2 separate regions of the Homo sapiens genome follow, and region 1 is linked to region 2. The links come from fine-mapping of genetic effects on gene expression. A gene starts in region 2. The other region holds a variant in brackets. All regions are shown on one strand. Distances are between the middles of the regions.

Region 1 (12,009 bases), 200 kb before region 2:
TGTGTTTAGTATTGAGTTTAAGGTTTGTTCATTCTCTACCCAATCTATCACAATTTTTCAGCAGCTAAATGGTGTGGTGCATGGTCACTGTCAACCTCTGTGCAATATTTCATACAAAAAAGACTGAATCATGAAAATTCTAAGACCTTAATAGGAAAGAATTTCACTTATGCCATTCTATATGCTATTTTTATTACAATCACTGCCATGTAATCAGGTTGCGTTTGCACTGTTCTCATCATATTCATATTAGAGACATTTTTATTATATCTTATCAGAGAAAATGAGCGCACCTCATGTGACTGTTTTATGTTTCTTGAAAAGCATTTTCACATTCTCCCGATGCTATGGCTTTACCTATGCTCAAGTTCCACAGAGCTGCCACTTCATCTCCTGTCTCTTTGGGTCAGCACCAGCAACCGGAATGGAAAGGTTTCAGGAAGACTTAGGAGTTGACGAGGAAGACACAACATGTCTTAACTGGGTGACTCCGTAGGAAAGGAAGGTGAGTTCTTACCTGGTCTTTGCTGAGAGTAACCATGCACTGGTAAGCAGCATCTGCTGATGCAAATATGTGGGGGGGATTGGAGGCGCGTTTCACCCCATGATAAAGTCTGGAAAACTGAAGGAAAAATAATTAAAGGAAACTCTCCCCTGGACCATCTAATACTCCACTACCTATTGCCCATGAAACCAAGAATCTGTCACTTATTAGGGTACTTGTTGCATTAGGAAGACTGTAGGGTATAGGTTCTGGAGCCTGCAGGACTGAGTTCAAATTTCACTTCTATACTTACTGGCTTCATGAGCTAGTAAGAGGGAGTTCACTCTATGCTAAGTCTCCCTGTCTGCCAACTAGGTTTAACAACAGTACCTGTCCCACAGGGTGTGAAAAAGTGAGATAACCCAGTGTCTAACACGCAGTAAGCACGCAATAAATGTTAACTATTATTGCTATAGTTTGCTTTAAAAAGGTATTCTCAAGATGTAAAAATTCCATTTGTATTACATTACTATCTGCAGTTTGGAGTATATACATCTAGGGTAGCATAATTTTATTCTTACTTTTTCTTTCTCTTCATTTGCCCTTGTGAGTTTTAATTTCCTATTAAGGAGCAGTATGCTCTTAAAACATCCCTTACCTGTGGAGAGTATATGCTTAGATTCTGGAAGGGGTTTAAGGCAATTAAGATGTCTCCAACATATGTGTAAATTAGCAAGTCTGCATAACGTTTCTGCAACTGATGGATAATTGTATCCTAAGAAGAGGATAAATGGTATTGAGGTAAATATTATTCCCAGTCAAGGGATAGATTCTAAAAATGACAACAAATTTATTCTTCCAAGAACATCTTTCTCTAAACGATGAAAGTAGTCCATTTAAATCATACAATGACCCTAATGATCCCAATTCATTAAAACAATGCCAATATTTGCCTTGAAAGAAAAAATAGGAATACACTGAAAGAATTAGGCCCACTTAGGACTTGCTAAAAGACACTGAGATATCCAACAAAGATTTTACTTGTTATTGTGAAAAAAAAACTCATCTCAACCAGTCAAAATGTTGTATTTAAAATTTTATTTAATAGGCTGTTCCTACTGATAGAGCACCGACAGAATGGTAAGTTAATTTCTCAAAGCACTGCACTTAAAACCTAGGTGGCATAAATACAGAATTAACCACTTTGTATTACACTTTAGTGATTTAGACATTGAAGGTAACAATCCCCAGAGTTAGACTCAGCATAAACAGGTCCAGTGCAATTAACAGCTCTATTAAACATGCATATTTTAAATGGGGATTATCACAGACTTCAAATTTAGAATTCAAGCTATATTAACTTCACTATTTCCCTAAATGAAGCTCTTTCTTATGAAGAACAAACAACTTCTTAAGGGTTAATTGAAATATTTTATCAAATTTTATCAAACAAAATATTTTCAGCTGATATAATCCATCATTAAGGCTACAATATAAAGAGCTTTATTGCAAAAATCCAAATCCTTTTCTCTTCATCATTCTAGGGGCTATCTAAATAAACACAGCACAGGATCATAGTCACAGCAACTGAATGCTCCCTGAACTTCATCCCATAGCTACACAAACAATTAAATTTTCAAATGACCTTAGGAGGACATGGTCTACAACAGAAAGTTCAGACCATTCACATGAAACAAATGTCTTCAATGAGAATTGTCTACTAAATATTTAGTACCTCATCCAGAACCTCTAGGTTGACCAAATCATCCTCAAGGCAGTATTTTTCAGCATCTTCCACATGATAAGGTCTTCTGGTATGCATCCTCTCATGCCTAGAAATTTATCAAGAGAGTTTAAGCATTAAGACAGCAAATAATGTAGCAGAAAGCGGGCAGCAAGCATGGCTCATTCACAATCTTATCACGTGATATGTTCAGAGACTTCAGAGACAGGGACAGGAAGTCCAGTCCAGGTCCCCAGGCTTTTCCTGCCACTGTAGAACTATTGGGATAAAGTGATCTCCATAGTTCAAGTCTACTTCCTGCCAGAGTGAGGAGTGTTACCAAATGGGCCCACCTAATACACATACTTGCTTTTCTTAAATGCCAAAGACAGCACTTCCAGAATAAACACCTCTGACTTCTGCTCAGTGTCAGGCACATAGTTCTCACTGGGGTATAGCCATAAGTGCCTTACTTCCCTTGAGGTCCCCTTGCTTTATCTACCAGCACCACCCCCAACTTTTGTGATAGTTTTTAACCTACGTAACACTTTCAGAGATTAATATAGTAAATACCAAATAATTGATCACTGTTTATGTTTTTTCTTATTCATGTGAAATCCCTTTGTGACCCTTGTCCCATCCCACTCCTCTCTCCTGAGGTGACCACTATTTGATGGGTTTCCTTCCAGTCTATTTTTAAATATTGGTCATATGCCTATAGATACCCATGAGCAATATACAGGTTCTGTATGTTTAGTTATAAAAATGATATCATACTTAGGTTTTATACTGTAAGCTTACTTTTTTCATTAAACATTATGATTTTTAAACTCTATTTATCTATCTATCTACCTATCTACCTTACCCACTTACCTACCTACCTAGTTCAGTCACTTTAATCACTGGGTAGTATTATACTTTATGAATATGTACCTATTTATTTACTCAGTCCGATGGGGGGGGTTGTTGTTTTTAAAATTTTATTTATTTATTTAGTAATTTTTAGAGATGGGGTCTTGCTCTGTCACCAGGCTGAAATGCAGTGGCATAGTCATAGCTCACTGCAGCCTCAAACTCTTGGGCTCAAGCAACCCTCCCCACTCAGCCTCTCAACTAGCTGGTACTAGAAGTATGCACTATTGTGCCTGGCTAATTTTTTAAAATTATTTTTTGTAGAGATGGAGTTTTGCTTTGTTGTCCAGGCTAATCTCAAACTTCTGGCTTCAAGTGATCCTGCCACCTTGGCCTCTCAAAGTGCTGGGATTACAGGCATATGCCACTGCACCCGGCCTACTCAGTCCTATGTTGATCAACATTTAGGCTGATTCCAATTTTTTTGCTACTAGTAATAATGCAACACTTAAAACTTTATACACATCTTTTTGTGTATATATGTGAGTTTTTCTCCTGGAGGGCACTGTTCACTAAGGATTTAAAAATCTTGTTTGATAATCAGTAATAATCCCCTCTGGTATACTAAAATATAGCTCTTTAAGGTTTAAAATTAATTCAAGGTCAAAGTAGGCCTTCCCGTAATTCCTTTCATAAACTCATCACTCCTCAATGCGGTTTAGGAGGAAAGCATTGGCTAGAAGAGCTCTGGACCCTAGTTTCAGAGTTGCGAGCAATGTGGTATGAGACACTCAGCAAATCCCTTAACAGCCAGTATATCGGTTTTCTTCATCTATAAATAGAATTACTCATAACTGATCTGTCTATCTCCCAGGTAGCTGTGAAAGCACATATAGTCATGGATATAAAAATGCAATAAAGTTGAAAACATGTACTAATTATTATTCTTACATCCTTGTTAACATTTGGAATCAACAATTTGCATAACTACACACATTACTCTGAATATCATTGACTAAACAAAATCATACATAAACTGTCCTACATACTGTAAATTCACTAGCCCAGAAGCATAACTTCTTGATTCTTCTCTGTCACTTTTGTGCCCATCAACATCACAGCTTATGAGGATATCACCCACCAATACAATTCTATCTAGCTAGATCCTAGAAGCTGGTGTTGACTGAAAGTTTTATGGTAAGTACCAGCTAGAAGTCATGGAATCTTGATGTACACCCCACCCTTTGGTATGCATTTCACAAAAGTAGGTAAAAAGGAAGAAGCAAACTTATCAGCTCTGCATATTGAGTCTTGAGTTTATAATGCAATATTAATGGCCAAATAAAATGGATTTCTCTCTTTCTAGCCTATTAAGTTAAATCTTACCTTTCAATCTCCATCACTGATAAATTTGAAAAGAGATATTTGAAGCATGCTATTAGTCATCTCCAGTCCTAGAACCAGTTTTGCTGCTAATTCATATAAAGGTCCAAAGTAGAATGAAGCTTAATTTTTATTTAATCAAATCAAATTTATAACCTAAGCAGTTTAAAATTATTAAACAGAATTATTTATCTGTGACTTTACATATTGGTGATGGCAAAGAAAAATCAAATTGGTTTGTAATACAGATTTTTACTAAAACTCAGAGCTGCTGCCTGCCTCTAGCTAGCCATTTTGTTAAATAAAACAGCAGGAGGATACATATTTCCGATCAAAATCCCCTTCACATAAAACCTAAGAATAATTTTGCTTGAAGTTAATCAAAAAACAAAATACTGGCTGGGTACAGTGGTTCACGCCTGTAATCCCAGCACTTTGGGCGGCCAAGGCGGGTGGATCACAAGGTCAAGAGATTAAGACCATCCTGGCCAACATGGTGAAATCCCGTCTCTACCAAAAATACAAAAATTAGCTAGGCGTGGTGGTGCACGCCTGTAGCCCCAGCTACTCAGGAGGCTGAGGCAGGAGAATTGCTTGAACCCGGGAGGCAGAGGTTGCAGTGAGCCGAGATCAAGCCACTGCATGCCAACCTGGCAACAGAGCAAGATTCCGTCTCAAAAAAAAAAAAAAAAAAATTGTACCACATTTTCATGAAATAATTAAATTACCATATTAAATTCAGCTAGTTTGTCTCCTTCCTACATTTATATCTTATAATTGCATATTCTGCACATCATTTGACAAAGAAAATCAATAATTAAAAAATTACCTCAGATCTGGTTCTGGTCAAGATGGAGTAAGCCCTCTCCACTCCTCACTGAAGACAACTAAATACCCTTGTCAGAATGCATGGAGCAGCTATCTTAAGACTCTGAGAAGTAAATTGTAACAGGCAGACTGGGGAAGGAAGTCAGAACTCAAAATACCACTGAACCAATGGTGAGTTTTCCAGGCTTTTTTTTCCTTCAGTAACTCCTGACCTGGATTTAATGGCAGCCTGAGCTGCATACAGAAATGCCAAGCTTCACATTGGATGACATTTTTATAGCCAACTAAAAATGGAAGCATGGACCAAACCTTACTTGCAATCTCACAAATAGATGCAGTCTAGTAGAAAGTTTTAATTTTCAGTGTGAATATACACAATGCAATATCACTAGGATCAACATTGGTATCTTCTGAGCCTGAAGGAGATTGTGTGCTATGCCAATCTGTCTCACAGATATAACTTCCAAGAATCATGCAGATGTTGTCTGCAAATCTGAGCTTGATTCTTGTAAAAAATCTTCCCCAATAATATTGTATTAACAAAAAATAACTTTTTAAAAATTTTAACTGCTATTAGTAGCAATGTGTGGCCTCTTTCCATGCTTACAGGTGATCAAATTCTTTAGAAATATTTGCTCCTAAAAGTGAAGTAGGCAATCTAGAAGTGGATGTAGATGCAAGACTTCTCTACTCTGATAAAGACCACTTCGTTTTCTCAACCAGAAAAAATATATATATGTGTAGCACTATTTCTGCCTTCCACAACTAGTGTTCTTTGGAAACTGCTGCCCGCTTAACTTTCCTCCTCTGGCTATGGGGTTTGGAGGGTCTATCGTAGAGAAAAAGCATTATTTATTTCAATTTTTATCTCCTTTAAAAACATTTTCCTAGACTTTGCATAAGCTTATAAAAAGCGTTACGTTGTTTTATATTTCTCTATTTTTAGTTGAAATTAATAAAAATAAACTTGGTTTATTTTTTTAATTTTATTGAGTTAAGTGATTTGTGTCATTAGTAACTATAGATCTTAATTTCCTTTAAATTCACATGCTCCATCTAGTGCCCTACTTGAGAATAGGACCTATTATCAATTTTTGCTGAAGAATTCCTCGTTTAATGTGAAAATTACAGATCTCCAACTAAAAGCTACTTGGATCGAGTATTCCAAAGCTCAGAGGAATGGAGACATAGATAAATGAATGGATAAACAGCAAAAAACATTCTACTAAATCAAAAGTATGTGGTAAGGCACTGTAGTTTTAATGGCTCAGAAGACGTTTTCAAATTCCAGTAAAGTTTATATTGCTTTTCTTAGATTTCCTACTTGTTTTTATGA[G/C]TTTGTAAGTATGTTGGCTGCCAAGGCTGGCTTCTCAGACAAACAGAGTTTGCGAGTTGGAGCTTAGAGGGAAAGTCTTGGCTTGGACTGGTTCCTGGAGTTTGCTTTTGGTGTGGCAGTGGAGCGGGAGACTGTGGAGAGCAGGACGGGCCTTAGGTTTCAGGGATCAGGTAAAGGGGAAACTGGTGCCTGAATCCATGGATCAAGTAGGGTGGGAATGAGGGCAAGTCTGTACCATCAAGTCCAAGGAAATGAGTGCAGCGTAAGAATAGAATCTGAAGAACGGGAAAGACAGAGCCAGAGGTAGAGGCTGGGAGTTCCCCTAAGACAACAGTGGGCATAGATGAGGTAGAGGATGGGGGTCTTTGTTCAAATCTTTGGCCCAGCCAATGAGTGGGAAAGGAGCTTTAGAGGACACCAAACTGGTTTAAACACTAGAAGAATTATTCTCATGAAATAAACTCCTAAAGTGTTGCAGCTTTCACTCTAGTTTAATCTCTGTATCTGCATTATGGTTAAAACCATTTCTGTGTCATTGTTCTCTAATATCTCATCACTGGGCCTGCTAGCTTCTTTGTTTGAGCTGCTAGTCCTATGAACTATATTGACAAACATATTTTGCCCAAAAGTGACTCATTAATCAATTAGCCTCTTTCTGTCTGCCAGTTATGCCTATGGAAGTGGAGGCTTCCATGTAGGTAGGTACAAACAGAGCTGCAAGAACTTCACGTAGGTGAGACAGGATACGCTCTTCCTTTCACTCCCCAACTATGATGAAGAACAAGTAATAGAAAAAGGTGCTCTAAATCATAACTCAAACATGAGAAGGAAACAAATTCTTCTAGCTTATCAATTCAGCCTAATAATAATAACAACAAGCAATATACTCCTAAGAAGTTAATCTCTGCACTGAGAAATGCCTGCTGGCTTCTTAGAGAGTCACCCTGTGTCAGCACCATTGTGAAGGTCACCTCTGCCTCTGCTCCTCCACACCCAGGATAAGAACCCTCTCCTCCGTCCAAGAGTGGAACTGCAAAAAGTGGAGAATGACTATCACTGTTACCAGATTCCAGATGGAAAAGGAAGTAAAATTTGTTGCGGATAGAGGCAAAAAAAAAAATAGAGAGAGGGAATAAGGAAAAAGGTGCAGGCTCAAAGATGTCAGTCCTCAAGAATCTAGGACAAAAGCCTCCATGGCCATAGAGAGAACTCAGGGATCACTCCCTTATCACTACATTCAATGGATTCCATACAAGAAAGAAAACATTACTCAAAACTGAGAATAGAGTACTGTTACTACACCAAGGTCAGTGATGTTGAATATTTCTTCTAAATCTTAATTTCCATTCAATATACCCTTTGATAACAGAGCCAATGAAAGAGGGACTTTTATTTTACCGTAACTATATAATAATGGACCTCAAACGAGAAAAACAATAGCAGACCTTTGAGGAATGACATTATTCTACTGAGAGTCAAATATGGACAGAGATAGCAGCTGGATACCTTTAACTACATGAGCTGTATCTTGACCCTGAACTTAAGGCTATGTCTTTCAAACAATACAATGCATAAATTTTAAAATAGGAGAATTGTTTGGGTGGAAATTATTATAGTATCTGCCCATTTTTCATCTAAGCACCGTTTTGGCCAGAATCCCAATAAATCAGCATCTTATCATTAATCATATTAAACAGTATTTGATATACCCAACTTCTCTAAGCGGCAAGAATCAGTAACACCAGCATAAAATTAATATTAACTAACTTACTCATTTGTAGATAGACAGATATAGGTATAGATAGATAGCAGATACTAATTATAGCAAGGTATAGATTTATTTCTTCTGTTAGGAAGATAAAAGGATATTTAACCTCCTGTGTGTTAAGCTTCTTCAGCACTTTATGAAGTAATCTTTCTGGAGTTACTTATTTACATAAGAACCCAATAACCCATTAGTGTATATAATATGGGGTGCTCTGTGTGTGTGTGTGTGTGTGTGTGCATGCATGCACATATTTGAAGGTAGAAGAGGGAGAGAGTGAGCAAGGATTACTGGGGAAAACTAGCAGTTAAATAGTGAGAAATCTGTTTTTAAAGGTCATTGCTGCAGGTTGAAAAGAAATCAAAAGCTGAAGTCATTGTTTTAATCAGCCTCAGGCAAATTGCAAGGGCGACATGACAACCCATTAAACAGAGCAGAAAAAAAAAAAACCCAGCAACTTAATTCTTCTACCAAGTAATACTTAGAACAGACCCTTGGCATTTAGGGTTTAACATCTGTGGTTTCAGCTAGTACCAAGCCACCTGCAGGGGCACGGCATGCTGGATCTTGTAATTTTACTGAGGTTCACGGTTGAGTTCATGGTCGTGGCAGAGACAATCGAGTCCTTTCCCTGCCTCCACTCACATTCCAGAGAGTGGTTTCACTCTTCTCCCAATAACCCTTGTAAAATGATACAAAGCATGTTTTCAATCTACTTCTCTGAACTTTAACAGTGAGATGACATACCAGATGATACTAATGAATTCAGGGATTTGCAAAACTGGTTTGGGGAAGAAGTCGTCTTTTTGCAGATCAAGGAAATAGGTGCTGATATAAAGGAAATGACCAAATAGTTTAAAAACACCTCCAACAGATGAAGTAACAATGTACTTTCAGCCCATTGTTCACATAGTTTTAGGGCTTCTTTAGCCCTTTAGGGCTTACTCCTTTAAAAGAGTAAGACTTGGATTAATAACTGCTCTATTGTACCTGAATCAAATACATGCATTGGCACAATTATAATTTACTGGAAAAACTTAAATTCCAATGATGTCATACATACACTATAATCAGCATCAGGTAATGGTATCTATCAAATCTCAAATAGTACAATATCACTTCTCCACAGGTGCCTCTGCTGTCCTGTATCTATATCTGTAGTGTGTGTGTGTGTGTGTGTGTGTGTGTGTGTGTGTGTGTGTATGTATGCATATATATATATAGAGAGAGTGAAATAGGGATGAATCACATCCTGGCTTTCCAAAAAGCACTCAGAAAAGCCTGAATGGTTAGACCCAGGAGAGGTGAGACAGGGGACTTACAAATTCAAGCCCTCCAAGCACAGTACAGCTTCTGCTCTATGTGAACAAGCCCTCCATGATTCTTAGCCTTGTTTTTGAATACTCTTGAATATGTGCCATAACTGAGATGGATCTGATCTAAGAGTTCCTCAACCTGTCAACACTTAAAAAACATTTCTTTCTATTCCACCGAAGTTGCCCACAAGCTCAGCTATCCTTAGTTCCTAATTATCTATCAAAAGTTCCTAGGATCTCAGTTCTACAATCCCTTTTCTCATCATCCCCTCACTGAATCTGCTCTTCATCTTTGTTGTAATAGCCAGTCCCAGGACTAGATCAGCCTCAAAGTCAATAAGCCAGTCTGGTGTCACTTTCTTCCCTACCCACAAAGATCCCAAGGCCACTCTTCTACTAACCTCGATTCCCTTGCTTCCTTGCCCACTCATCATGTCCACTGAAGTCAGTCTCTAGCCTGAAGAAGACCATAATGTCTGCTTTCTCTACTCCTAACTCCTTGCTGCTAAGAGTTAATTGAGATGACAGATGAGAAAGGCGGCAGTGGTGATGGTGCATTTTCTGAGAGTTTCTAGTGCCAAGTGTCCTGAATGCTCTACATGCATTATCTTAGACACTGATTAACTTCACTACAATAGGATGCTATTCAGTTGCATTCTACCTGGGTTTTCTATGCTATTAAGCAATCATGATGTCGATCTTTAACTGACCCTTTATCATATTCCTCATAGTGAATATCTCAAAGATTTAACGATTCCCTGGAGTCCACAATCCACTCCCAACTCTGAAACCTTGCTAAGTTTTTTTTTTTTTTTTAAAGGCCATTCAACATGAATTTCCTCACAATGCCTCCTCTCCTAAGTTTTCTGAGTACTTTTATCTAACCTTTCTGTGTCTTTCCCAACTTAGAGTTTCTCTCTTTCTAAAGTCAACCTCCCTTTTAGGCCCCTGACCCACTCCCTCTTGCTTCCTCCATTGCTTCCTCTCTCTTCTGTCTTCGTTGTCTCCCTCTCTATATATATCCTTCCCCTTTACCTGTCCAAGTGTTCCCCCATCCTTTAAGAACTTGCATTCTTCCCTGCATCCTGCTCAAACTACCAACTTCTCTCTCCCCTGGGAAAAGTACTAAAGTGGACTGAACGTTCCTTACCTTTGCAGGAATGGTAAGAAAGTTTTCCCTGTAGATTATAGGTTTCATTACTCTGTATCAGCTCTCAAATCCAAAAAGAGTTGCTACAGCTGGAGGGCCCAGGACTGCCTAGACCATTGAAGAACTCTCTTTTGGGCAGAAAGCTGGAAGCTTTGTGTAATATCTGGAAGTACTTGGCATTGCATTTGATAGACTATGAAGACGTGTCTTGCAATTTCTACATGATTGCATTGTGAACCAGGCCAGGGAGGCAGCCCAGTTTGGGTAGGCCCCAACACACTTCTCTGTTTCCCTAATCTCCCTCAATCAATCCATCACTAAGTCCTGACAATATCATTATTTTAATATCTTCTGCCATTTGTAATTACTATGATCTGCTCACTAGTTCCCTGGCTGCAGCCTTACCCTGCTTCATTCTCCATACTGCAATCAGAACAACTTTCTGGAACTCTTCAATGGCTCCCTAGCACCTAAGAAACAAATTCAAGCTCCTTAGGCCCATGGTGACGTGGCTCCTGTCTACCTTGTCTCTCCCTCCCACCTACCCCATGCCAAGCTCCAGCCATGTCAACTAATTGTTCACCAGATTCCCCAAGCTCTCTCTAGCCCTTGTGCCTTGCCCTTTGCTCATTGCTCTTTCTTTCCCCTCTACCCCGAATAACCCCCTTTCCTTGACTATCTTTGATTTGTTCTTCAGGGCAGTTCAAGGATCATCTACCCAGCAGCTCCAGGGCATCTTCCCCTACCATCCCAACCCCAGACTGACTTAGGTGTCTTTACCAGGTGCTCTGAGAGGTATCCCAGGCATTCCTTTATCTAGGTACTTTTCATTTTGAACTGTTCTCACCTGATTCTTGTCTCTATCACACACCAGACTATTAGCTCTTTATCAGGAACTGCATCTGATTTGCCTTTGTAGTCCCTCTGTTCAGCATAGGGCCTGACACATACACATGTATAAATGCCTCTTGAATGAATAAATTAGATATTGAATAAGAGATAAAATGGGATATTTTAAACATTCAGTACCTCAGTAGTGTTTATTTTCATGATCTTGTACAGTAAGTAAAAAGATGAATTTGCACAGATTATGGGCAAGAGGTAGTTAGTGTTAAAAAGAAATGAAAGACTCAGAATTAAATAGACCTTGTACACTACTTCTACTACTAACA
Region 2 (12,009 bases):
ATTAAAAATGGAAATCCAAAATGAATCTGGTAAGTTTTAATATCTAATTTTTAGAACATTAAAAAATTCAAATGGGTTAATTCCTTTCTAGCATTTAAACAGCACAGAAACATATCTCTCAAACCAAAAGTCAACATCTTAGTTAATAATGGATTTCTACAACCATTGCTAATAAAAATCAAGAAAAAAGACAAGTATCTCTCACAAACACTATAAAATTTTGCATTGTTTTTGAAGTATTAGCCACTGTGATTAGACAAAAAAACATAGAAATAAACACTGGGAAGATGGTGAATATAAAATAAATAGTGGAATGATTTATTCCTGGAAAATCAAAGTTTAACAATGAAAAAAATTAAGTTGATTCATTGAGGAGCTGAGTATAAAATTAGCATCTAGAAATCAAGCAATTTCAAAATATATTTTTCTATATGTTAAAAGTAATCAGCCAGAAAGAAAATAGCATTTTAATAGGAATTAAAGAGAGTAAAATGCCCAAAGCTAAACCTAACGAGAACAGAGCAGAATGTATAAAAGTAAAATCTTAAAATCAATGGATTAAATGAAAAGAGACCAAAAAAATGCAAAACCATATACCTTATGCTTGGATAGAAAACCTTACTGTGAAGATGTCAATTCTTCCTAAATTTAGTCTGAAAGTAAATAATTGTTTTTTTTTGAGACAGAGTCTTGCTCTGTGGCCCAGGCTGGAGTGCAATGGTGTGATCTCAGCTCACTGCAACCTCTGCCTCCCAGGTTCAAGCAATTTTCTTGCCTGAGCCTCCCAAGTAACTGGGATTACAGGTGCATGCCACCACGCCCAGCTAATTTTTTTGTATTTTAGTAGAGACGGGGTTTCACAGTGTTGCCCAGGCTGGTCTTGAACTCCTGAGCTCAGGCAATCCACCCGCCTTGGCCTCCCAAAGTCCTAGATTACAGGCATGAGCCACAGCGCCCAGCCGCTTTGTTTTTTTTTAAGAATTTGACAAAATGATATTAAACTTCATTAGAAAATTAAACACATGAGGGCTGGTCACAGTGGCTCACACCTGTAATCCCAGCACTTTGGGAGGCCAAGGCAGACAGATCACTTGAGGTCAGGAGTTTGACCAGCCAGGCCAACATGGTGAAACCTCGTCTCTACTAAAAACAGAAAACTTAGCCGGGTGTGGTGCAGGTGCCTGTAATCCCAGCTACTCAGGAGGCTGAGGCAGGAGAATAACATAAACCTGGGAGGCGTAGGTTGCAGACAGCTGAGATCACGCCACTGCACTCCACCTTGGGCAATGGAGTGAAACTCAGTCTCAAAAAAAAAAAAAAAGAAACAGAAAAAGAAAAACACATAACATGAAAATTTTAAAAAAGAATAATTAGTGAACATAATTTGACCAGACACTAAAACATGTTATACTGCTAGAGTAATTAAAACATTATGCCACAGGGGTAGAAATAAGTAGTCAGATCGTTAGACTAGAAACCAAAAGTAGACTCAAATACACAAAGAAATAGGGTTTATGATAAAAATCACATTACAAATCAATAGGCAAAAGATGGACTAAATAATACTGTTCAATAAATTATGCTGGCTTAACTTGCTGGCTGTTCAGAAAAAAAGTTAAGCCAGATTGCTACCTCATTCCTTTCTCCAAAATAGAGTATGGTGGCTCAAAATTTTTTAAAAAAATATAGCTAAATACATTATAGTCTTGGTGTAGGCAAGAAATATTTTCAAGTAGAATAGAAAACTCACAAGCCCTAAGAAAAAAATTGATAAACATAATTGCATACAAGTAAAAAGGTCTCTACAACCAAAAGAATTGTTGTAAGTACTAACATTTTTCCAAAAAATAAATAGAAAAGAAGGTTTGTATCAGGAGCTAATTTTCTATCAAGAGTATATACAATAAAAAAGAAAAAGACTCAAAAAATTTAAATGTATAAAAGATGCTAAATCTCACTAGTAAATTTTAAACGGCAAATCAAACTAATGAGATACCATTTGTCTCCTATCACACTGTCAAGATTTTTAGAAGTTTGATAATAGTGTTAAGAGAAATAAGCACTCTGAGACAACATGAGCGAAAGCGTAAACAATCTTTGTGAGGAATTATTAGTCAAAATCTACCAAATGCCCATTCCCTTTGTCTCTGTAATTCTACTGGTAGGCATTTACTTTACATATATAATCAAAAAAAGCACACTTAGATTTATATTAACAGAACATAAAAGAAAAACCATCATCTCGATCGATGCAGAAAAAGCATTCACAAAAAATTCAACATTTATTCAAAATTTAAAAACAACAACAAAAATCTCTCAACAGACTAGAAAGTGAAAGGAACTTCTTCATCTGATACAGGAATCTAGGAAAAACCTGAAGTTAACACCACACTTAATGGTGAAAAACCGAATGCTTTCACCTTAAGATCAGAAGCCAAGGATGTCTGCTCTCATCATTTATATTGAATACTGTGGTGAAGCCAGAATAATAAGTCAAGAAAAAGAAAATTTAAAAATCCAGATTAGAAGGGAAGAAGTAAAATGGGCTTAATTTGAAGATTACATGATTATCTATTTAAAAAACTGATGGAATTTATAAAAACATTACTAGAACTAATTAGTGAGTTTATCAGAATTACAGGATACAAACAAGGTCAATATTTTAAATTCAATTATATTTCTACATACTAGAAAGGAAAACTTTTCAACAGTGCTAAAACAATTGTAGAGCAATATGCAAAAAGAAAAAAAGAATCTTTATCCTTACACCACATATAAAAATTAACTTTAATCATTAAACAGATGTAAGAGCTAAAACTCTATTAAACTTGAAGTAGATAGACATACAAGATTGTTCACTATAGTATTATTTTCAGTAGAAAACCAGATACAACCTAGAGGCCCATCATCATGGAGAGATTATCTAATAAATCATAATAGTTACATAAAATTAAATACAATGTAGCCACAGGTAACCACCAAAAAGAAAAAAGGTAAATTTTCTGCCAATTAATATGGAAAGAATGCCAAATATACAATTAAGATTTGTTTTAAAAGTGTTGAATAGTGTATAGAGAGGACAATTTTTGTGTAAATACAAAGAATATTTGCATTTCTAGTCATTTTATGTGTATATTTGTGTGTATGTCTCTATGTATGTGTATATCCTTATATACATTTTTCCAGAAGGCTACACAGGAAACTCTTAAACTTTAGGGAGAGGTGGTAAAAATCAGAGAGTTTGGAAAAGAGAGAAATTTATATGCTTTTTAAAATTATTACACATTTTTAGTCATGTTTTTTGCTAGTGCATATGTTATTCTACTTTTTAAAATAAATATTTTTTAAAAAAACATATAAGAGATCTCTACAGAGGAGACTATTATGACCCAAATGTGTGCTGAAGTCAGAGGATAGCAGAAACCATATGAAACAGAGGCTCATCCTGAGAAGAAAAAGAAAACAGAGAAATAAGAAACTGAAAGGACCATGCTTGAGAGAGTGAGACAAAGAGGATTAGTGAGTGGGTTCACTGTGAATTCTACATCTTGGCCCTCTGAGGCCTGCTAAGCTTTGCTGTCTGTCCTTGTAACCCATGAAATTTCCTACTGCATTCTTCCAAGCAGCCCCTCTTTTCATGAGCTGATTTGAGTTTCTCGTGAGCTAGTTTTAGTTCCTTAACAACCCCAAATTGGTCTAGTCTGATCCCTTGTTGAATACCCTGAATTAGTCCCTAACGGAGGTACAGCCTTACCTTGTTGAAAGTAAAGCACTCTGCAGCATGCACCCTGTGAATGTCTGCAGTTAGTCAAGCCTAGCGAGCATGATTTAAATAGAAACTTGCCCAGCAACATTTTATACTCATTAGAAAATTCATGATGAAGATTTCCATTGCTCAGTATGCTATTCAGAATATTTTTTCTAGATGTTATAGTATGGTATATATGAATCACAAATCATAGAATGCTTTCAAATCTAGAGAATAGATTTTAGAAAGAAGAAATCGGAAACCTGAACTGTGAAATGTCAGAGGAAATCTGTACAAATATTAAATATAACACCCAGAGATACACAGAATAAGGAAACACATACCATACAAGCGTGAGTAAATTAGAGAATAATTCCAAACCAATACATAAGCAAGTGCATAATAGTTGTGTTAGTCCATTTTCTGCTGCTGTAACAGAATACCACAGACTGCATCATTTATAAACAATAGAAGTTTATTTGGCTCATGGTTCTGGAGGCTGGGAAGTCCAAGATCAAGGGGCCACATCTGGTGAGGGCCTTCTTGCTGCATCATAACATGGTGGAAGGTCTCACATAGTGAGACAGGGCAAGAGAGTGAGAGCTCAAGAGAGAGAAAAAGGAGACTGAACCTATCCTTTTACTAGGAGCCGTCTCCCACAATAACAGCATTAATCCATTCATAAGGGCAGAGCCCTCATGACCTAGTCACCTCTTAAAGGTCCCATTTCTTCTCACAATGGCAATTAAATTTCAACATGATCTTTGGAGGGGACATTCAAACCATAACCATGGTAAAGACGTAAGAGTAGGAACTGGCTTCTTCACAAACCACCTATCTGGATGCTGCTAGATAGGGCCTGTTCAAGTATAGCTCAAATGTCTTCTCTTCTAGGAGGCCTTTCCTAATTTTCCCACTAGAACTGACCTTTATGGTTCCACTGATTATGTACTCTTTTCCTTTCTTTAAATTTTATTTTATTTTAAGTTCCAGGTTACATGTGCAGGACGTGCAGGTTTGTTACACAGATAAACATGTGCTATGGTGGGTTGGCTGCACCTATTAAGCCCCCCATGCATTAGCTATTTATCCTGATGCTCCAGGGGAGACACTCAGGACTGGCATTTGACAGAGCTTGGTAGAGGAATCCAATGATCTCTAGGTTGATCTCTAAGTTCCATCTCTAATGTTCTATGGATTTTAAACCTTGAATATACAAAATTACTGAGAGGAAGAAAAGAATCATGGCATAATGGAATTTATCTACTATTGTTTACATTGTCATGTTACCAAATTAACAAATCTGTCATGATATTGCAGTCACTAAGGAACAATACATACCCACAGCTCTTACAAATGATTAACTAAATGATCAGATTTTTCATTTCCCCACCAAAGCATGAGGAAATTTATCTTAGCTTTAGCTGCCTGAAACCTCTCTTGGGTGAAAAACATTAAAAACATCTGCAAATTACTGATGACTAATGCCCTTCAATTTGGCCTCAAGCTGAGAAATTCTGTGCAGAAATAAAGTGGTTTATAATCCCACAGGTCCATTCTATTATAAACTGCAGGTGGCAAATCAAGTGACTATGAACTATGCTGTGTGTATGTGTGTGTGTGTGTGTGTGTGTGTGTGGTGTGTGTCTGTGTAAAAAGCAATACTCAAGAGGGTGTTTATCCTACTCCTTCAAGAGAAATTTAACCACCCAGACAAAAGGCAAATGCTAACTGAGAGGACCCAGGAATCTGGGTGATGTCAGACAGAGGCCCAAAGCCAGAGTGGCTGTCATCCCCCTCCACTGCCCACCAGCCAGGGCAGCTGCATCTGCCCTTTGCAGAAAAACAATCTAAAGCAAGCACAGAAGAAAGCTGGAAGGAAAATAACTGCAACTCACATCGATGACCTATTTTCTGAATCCGGCTTATGAGAGATTGGATTCTCATTCCTCCAAAAACCAGCAGAACACTTCAGGCCCAGAAAATGGTGTCTTTGATGACTAGAATGTATGACACATCATTACCAAAGGACTTTCGATCTAGGTTCCAAGAGGTGTTAGCCTCAGATGACTATTGTGGGAGGAGCTGATAAATCCACCAAATCCTTGGTGACTTTGCTTCACTATTAGGCAAGATTAAGATGATGCTAATTGGTAGTGAGCCTGATCTATTTAGTGTCTCCTACCAGGACACAGAGCAGAATCAAAACCATTCTCACAGATCCTGTTTGCATGTCATTTAACAGTTCCAATGTGATATTCCCCCAACCTTTTAAAGTTCCTTCATTCCAGATTAAATTCCTTCATTCCAAATGCTGCACAATCAAAACTAATCATCTTTTTGTGAGCAAAGGGCATAATCAAAGCATGTAGTCAGGGTCACTTTTCTGAACTGCAGATAAACCCAGGGGAAACACCATGAGTTTCTGATCTGAATTACCAAGCAATGAAACAGTGACTATTCAACAGTGACTATTCATTCAGTAGCATGCCCTGGGCTATATACAGAACAGTAGGTTAAGAGGAGGCAGGGGGTGGGGGGGTGGTGCTGGGCATGGTGGATCACGCCTGTAATCCCAGTACTTTGGGAGGCCAAGGCTCGTGGATCACCTGAGGTCAGGAGTTCGAGACCAGCCTGGCCAACATGGGGAAACCCCATCTCTACTAAAAATACAAAAATTAGCAGGGTATGGTGGTGTGCGCCTGTAATCCCAGCTACCAGGGATGCTGAGGCAGGAGAATTGTTTGAACCTGGGAAACGGAGGTTGCAGTGAGTAGAGATTCTGCCACTGCACTCCAGGCTGGGCAACAAAGTAAGACTCCATCTCAAAAAAAAAAAAAAAAAAAAAAAAGGGAGAGAGGGGAAGTGAGAAACAGGAGGGTAGGGTCCCCAGAAAGCTTCTTTTCTGGCCAGCTAACATGACACATAGGCCCATGTGAAATAGTTGAAGACTGTGCAATAACACTGGATAAGCTATATCCATCAATTCTGAGGAGGAGTCAGTTCAACCCAGGACCAAGACTTGAGTGGGAATGCTTCCTGGAGCAGATAAATCTAGGTACAGTTTTGAATGAAGAAGTGAAAAGGATTAGTGTAGATGAGGCAGGAGAGAAACCCAGAGCCAAGAAACAGCACACAGAGAATGCAAATATGAAGAAGGTGATTTAAAGGACAGCGATCTTACTCCCGCTAGTCAATAATGGCCTTTGTGTTTCCATTTACTGTCATAAGAATCTTAAGAATGGGGATAATGTGTTCTATCTTCCTATATTTCCTACAGTATTTGCACATAATAATTGCTCATATTATAGCTAGTAGAATCATGGATTCCTACAGTTGGACTGAACTTATCATCCCATCTGCTTGCAGAATAAATTAATAAATAAATGAACAGGTTATTAAAATTAACAGGTTGTTAAAAAGATCAGCCTGGTTCCAGTAGAAGAATTATAAAAATAATCAAGAGATGAAGTTGAATTTGTATACAAGAGTCAGTTGAAGGCAGAGCTTTCAGGCAGCCTGGGGGGCTGGAATTTTTCCTCAAAGGTGAGAGGGTGCCACACCAGGCTTTTAAACAGTAGAGTAACATAGGAAATTTTCTTTGAGAAAGAGTGTCTTGGCAGATTTTTGCAGGAAAAGGCAAATCAGAAGGCCAGCAGGATTCCATTGCAACAAGGAGTTAAAGGCTATACAGTCTGGAAGGTGACCGACAGCCTGCCCAGGCCCAAGGGAAAAAAAATACCAGATGCCCCAGCAGAGGAGGACTGGCTAGACTGTCTTCACCAGGGATTTGCCCGAGGCCCTTTCAGCCACTGGGCCCCAGTAATTTATCCTAATTTCCTTCCCCACAGCCCCGCCTCTCCACCTCAACCCTGATAGTACTTATTAGCTCAAAATGGACCATCTGAAGGAAGGGACAACCTCTTGCGAACGAACCGAGGGCCTGGTCTGCTCCAAATAAGTGTTTCCTCTAAGAAAGAAATTATAATGCATTCCTAGTGTGAGTGCAGCAGCAATAGCCTGACAGCCATTTGCATAATTTCTCTTCTGTAACAGACTTCAAAAATAACAATAGGCGAACTAGATAGAATCTATTAATTTTAAATTTGCTTGAGCTGCTATCTTTAATGAAGCTAAAGTACCATGAAGATTTTAAATCTATTAATTATGTGGTGTATTATTTGTTCTCTCCAATGAGACATTTTGGGGAATGGACATTTAATTTGTGTTGCTATAGAATCACCACCTTATTCTGGGATGTCCACTTGGTTTGAATGTACTGATAAGGTTGGAAGGTAGCGTGTTTAGAAAGTTCATCCAAGAGTAGCAGAAAAATGCTAATTAATGTCAAGAATAAAATATACGCACACACATCAAGTCAGGAATGACTCAGGAACGCAGAAGTGACCAGCCTGGGCACCATAGCAAAACTCTGTCTCTACAAAAAATAAATAAATTAGCAGGGCATGTTGGCACATGCCTGTAGTCCCAGCTACTTGGGAGGCTGAGGTGGGAGGATCATTTGGGCCCTGGAGTTCAAGTCTGCAGTGAGCTATGATCACACCACTGCACTCTCACCTGGGGGACAAAGTGAGACCCCACCTCAACAATAAAAATGTAAGAACCCGGAAGCAAAAGAATCTCATAGATGACTTTCGCAAGTGCTAAAACCACTACACAGCAACAGGAGGACAGGAACCATGCCTATCAGGTCCACCATTATATCTCCCATGCCTAACATAGGGCCTGGCATGTGGCTATATAATGTTGAAAGAAATGACCTACTGGATGGATGAATGAATGGGATTTCTTTACATAACAAAGGCAATTAAAATACCTAAGAAATATATGCATAAGATTTATTTTTCCAAAGAACTAAAAGAGCAATAATTTCATGATCATTTTCATTCATAAGCATACATGCCCACATGTGTGCACGGGCAAACACGCACACCCTTCAAGTAAAAACACCTTAAGAAGGAACTACATTGAAAAGAAAGGACTTTAAGTCTTAAATTATTTATTATAGCAGAAACATTTCAAACTAGCAAAGCATTTAATAACACTGTAAAATGAATTACCACAAGTAAACCTCTTAGTTTTCTTCATCCATTTATGGAGTGCCAGACACTACACTTGATGGCTGACAAATTGCAAAGAAGGAAAAAAAGAAAATACCTAACTTTTGAGTGTCTTCTGGATAATTTTTCCAAAGAACATCCTACTAAGTTATACTCTAAACAGGCCAGACGCGGTGGCTCATGCCTGTAATCCCAGCACTTTGGGAGGCCCAGGTGAGTGAATCGCCTAAGGTCAGGAGTTGGAGACCAGCCTGACCAATATGGTGAAACCCCATCTCTACTAAAAATACAAAAATTAGCTGGGCGTGGTGGCGGGCGCCTGTAAGCCCAGCTACTCAGGAGGCAGAGGCAGGAGAATCGCTTGAACACAGAAGGTAGAGGTTGCAGTGAGCTGAGATGGTGCCCACTGCACTCCAACCTGGGTGACAGAGCAGGACTCCGTCTCAAAAAAAAAAAAAAAAAAAAAGTTTTACTCTAAACAGATGAATTTTTAGCAGCACCAAATAATCCATTTTCTGCTCCATTTTAATATCCACATTTTCATTTCATGGGTTTTATCCCTCAATTCCAAATGACATTCTAAGTCAAATAAGAACTTAACCAAAGTCATCAGCTAATACTTAAAAAACAAATAAATCCTAATGGTAAAAGGAGAATCTCTGGGTATTAAGTCTGCCCTGAAAAACAGGGCAAACAATGTGTCCAGTTTCAGATTTTAAAAATTTGTGGATCTGGAGTTCGCCTGCTTTATCACACACACACACTGGGCACACACAGAGATCACCTGTGTGTGATCTGCTTTATCACACACACACACACACACACACACACACACACGGTACACACAGAGATCCCTGGGGATTGTTCCTGCACTTCCATACTTCTCTCTCCATAAAGCTCAATCTTCCTTCATCCTGAATACGGTGAAACTACTATGATCTTCCATACTACTTTCCTAATCATATTTTGGAAAATGTCATGTGGAAATCTTTTTGGTATTAGTATTTTCAAATCAATCCTTCCAACATACCCTGTAATCAAAGCACAGTGTGATTCATTCTGTCAACATCCAGTGGCTTTGGGAGGCCAAGGTGGGAGGATTGCTTGAGCCCAGGAGTTCAAGACCAGCCTGGGCAATATAGTGAGAACCCATCTCTACAAAACTAAAAGATTAAAAAAATTATCCAGGCATGATGGTGTGCAACTGTAGTCCCAGCGACTTGGGAGGCTGAAGTGGAAGGATGGCTTGAGTCCAGGAGTTCGAGCATGCAGTGAGCTATGATCTTGCCACTGCACTCCAGCCTGGACAACAGAGTGAGATACTGTTTCTACAAAAAACAAACAAAAACATTCCATGGTGCCTATGGTGTGGCAGGTCCTGGTGACATAAAGTAGCCTCCTTATCCCTATGGGGCTCAGAGCATGAGTGTTACAGAAGGGAAGTGCAAGGTGCTATAGGAGCCCATGACAAAGGAAATCAGGCCTCTGAGGTGATTCTCCAACTTGGTTGCACATTGGAATCACCTGAAGAGATTTACAAATATGGATTCCTGGTCCCACCTCTCCCTGGAAATTCTGGAGTATGGCTCTGAGCACCAGCAGTTTTTAAGCTTCCCAAAGAGGCAAAAAAGTTTGTGAATCATTGCTCTAGGGGGGTGGTTCTCGAACTTTTGTATTCATCAGAATCTTCTGGAGGGCTTGGTAAAACAGACTGCTGGACTCCACATCCAGAGTTTCTGACCCTGGTGGTGGAGAAGAGCCACAGAATATGCATCTCTAACAAGTTCCCAGGTGATGCTGGACCACCCTTTGAGAAACACTGCTTCAGAAAGCCAGCTGAGGAAGTGAGCTGAAGGGACAGGGGACGGGGGAATGTTTTCGGCAGAGGGAAGCACCGTGTGAAGGCCCAAAGTGGAGATAGCACCGCGGCAAGCAAATATTCCTGGAACCAAGAGATCTGAGGCATGGCCAGAGGTTAGGGAGCAAGGAGGATCATGCAGGGTAAGGCCAGTGATAGGTGGACACAAATCCTGGTCCTGCCATCTATGATTATGACTGAGAAAAAAAATGACTCCACAAAGCAAAAGAGGCTGCTCCTCTTCACAAGAATTGGCCACAGTAGTATTGTCCAATCAGTAGGGTTCTTAACTCTCAGATTATGAAAAATCCAGGCTGGCTTATTATTAAAAAGTAATAACACTCTTTGCAGGGTTAACATTTTATAGCTTTCATGACACTTTTGCAAGTGTTATCTCATCCAATTCTTAAAGAAATCCTGGAATGCAAGAAGGTCTGGCGCTCCTGCCTTCATTTTGCCAGGTCTAGAACCCCATTATCAGACTCCTGTTCTGGTCATCTTCTACTATAGCTCGTTACCCTCCAGCGTTTACTTCTACCCACAAATGGAAAAGTCCAGTCCTCTAGAAAATTCTTGTCCAAGTGCTGAGAAAAATATAGGAGAAACCAGCTCTCCACATAGGTGGTAACATACACACCTGCCCATAGCATTTACGCATGTGTCACCAGAGACTGTTCCAGAAGGCCCTGGCTATGTTTAGACAACTATTTGACTCTCCAGAAATTCAATCCAAAAGCCAGGCATGGTGGCTTATGCCTGTAATCCCAGTACCTTGGGAGGCCAAGAGAGGAGGATTGCTTAATGTCAGGAGTTCAAGACCAGCCTAAGCAACATAGGGAGAACTACCCTGCCAATCTCTACAAATTTAAAAATTAGCTCATGTGGTGGCATATGCTTGTAGTCCCAGATACTCAGGAGGCTAAAGCGGGAGAATCTCTTGAACCCAGAAGGCTGTAGTGAGCTATGATCTCACCACTGCACTCCAGCCTGGATGACAGGGAGACCCTGTCTCAAAAAAAAAAAAAAAAAAATTCAGTCAGAGTGTAAAGTTGATTTGGAAGAGAACTCAGATGTTTGTTTTCACATTCTTAGACACTAGTCCTGAAATTTGGGTAGCTGCCATGAGGGGGAAGTAATGTCTGGGTTTGGTTCTACCGTAAGCCAACAGGCTTGGCAAACTATGGATAACTTAGAGACCATACAAGTATAATAAACAATTCAGGAATTTTTTTTTCTGTCAAAATTAACACTCTTCAGAAAATATTGGCTACTATTTTAATTTTTACATTCTTTTTAAATTCAAGAATGTGTTGTGTCTTTTT

Which allele goes with the higher level. Positions count from the first base shown, and alleles are read on the strand shown. Sizes are in standard deviations (SD) of each study's normalised expression.
For the expression in tibial artery of the gene that starts at base 5,789 in region 2, G is the low allele of the variant in region 1 and C is the other (moderate effect, 0.43 SD a copy in GTEx).

The links. PIP is the estimated chance that this variant, and not a neighbour inherited with it, causes the effect.
Region 1: its variant is fine-mapped to the expression of MYO3B in tibial artery (GTEx, PIP above 0.99).

Annotation. Positions count from the first base shown.
Region 1 is chr2:170,372,323-170,384,331 of GRCh38, reverse strand. MYO3B (myosin IIIB) reads right to left here. Exons shown (of 35, transcript NM_138995.5): 10 at 2,220-2,316; 11 at 1,143-1,259; 12 at 518-622. Among named protein-coding and RNA genes, the nearest start is that of MYO3B-AS1, 27 kb to the right of the region's middle. The variant G/C (reference allele first, on the strand shown) is at 6,607.
Region 2 is chr2:170,171,927-170,183,935 of GRCh38, reverse strand. MYO3B (myosin IIIB) reads right to left here and starts at 5,789. Exons shown (of 35, transcript NM_138995.5): 1 at 5,647-5,789. The coding sequence starts at 5,648. RefSeq lists an enhancer at 3,378-3,607.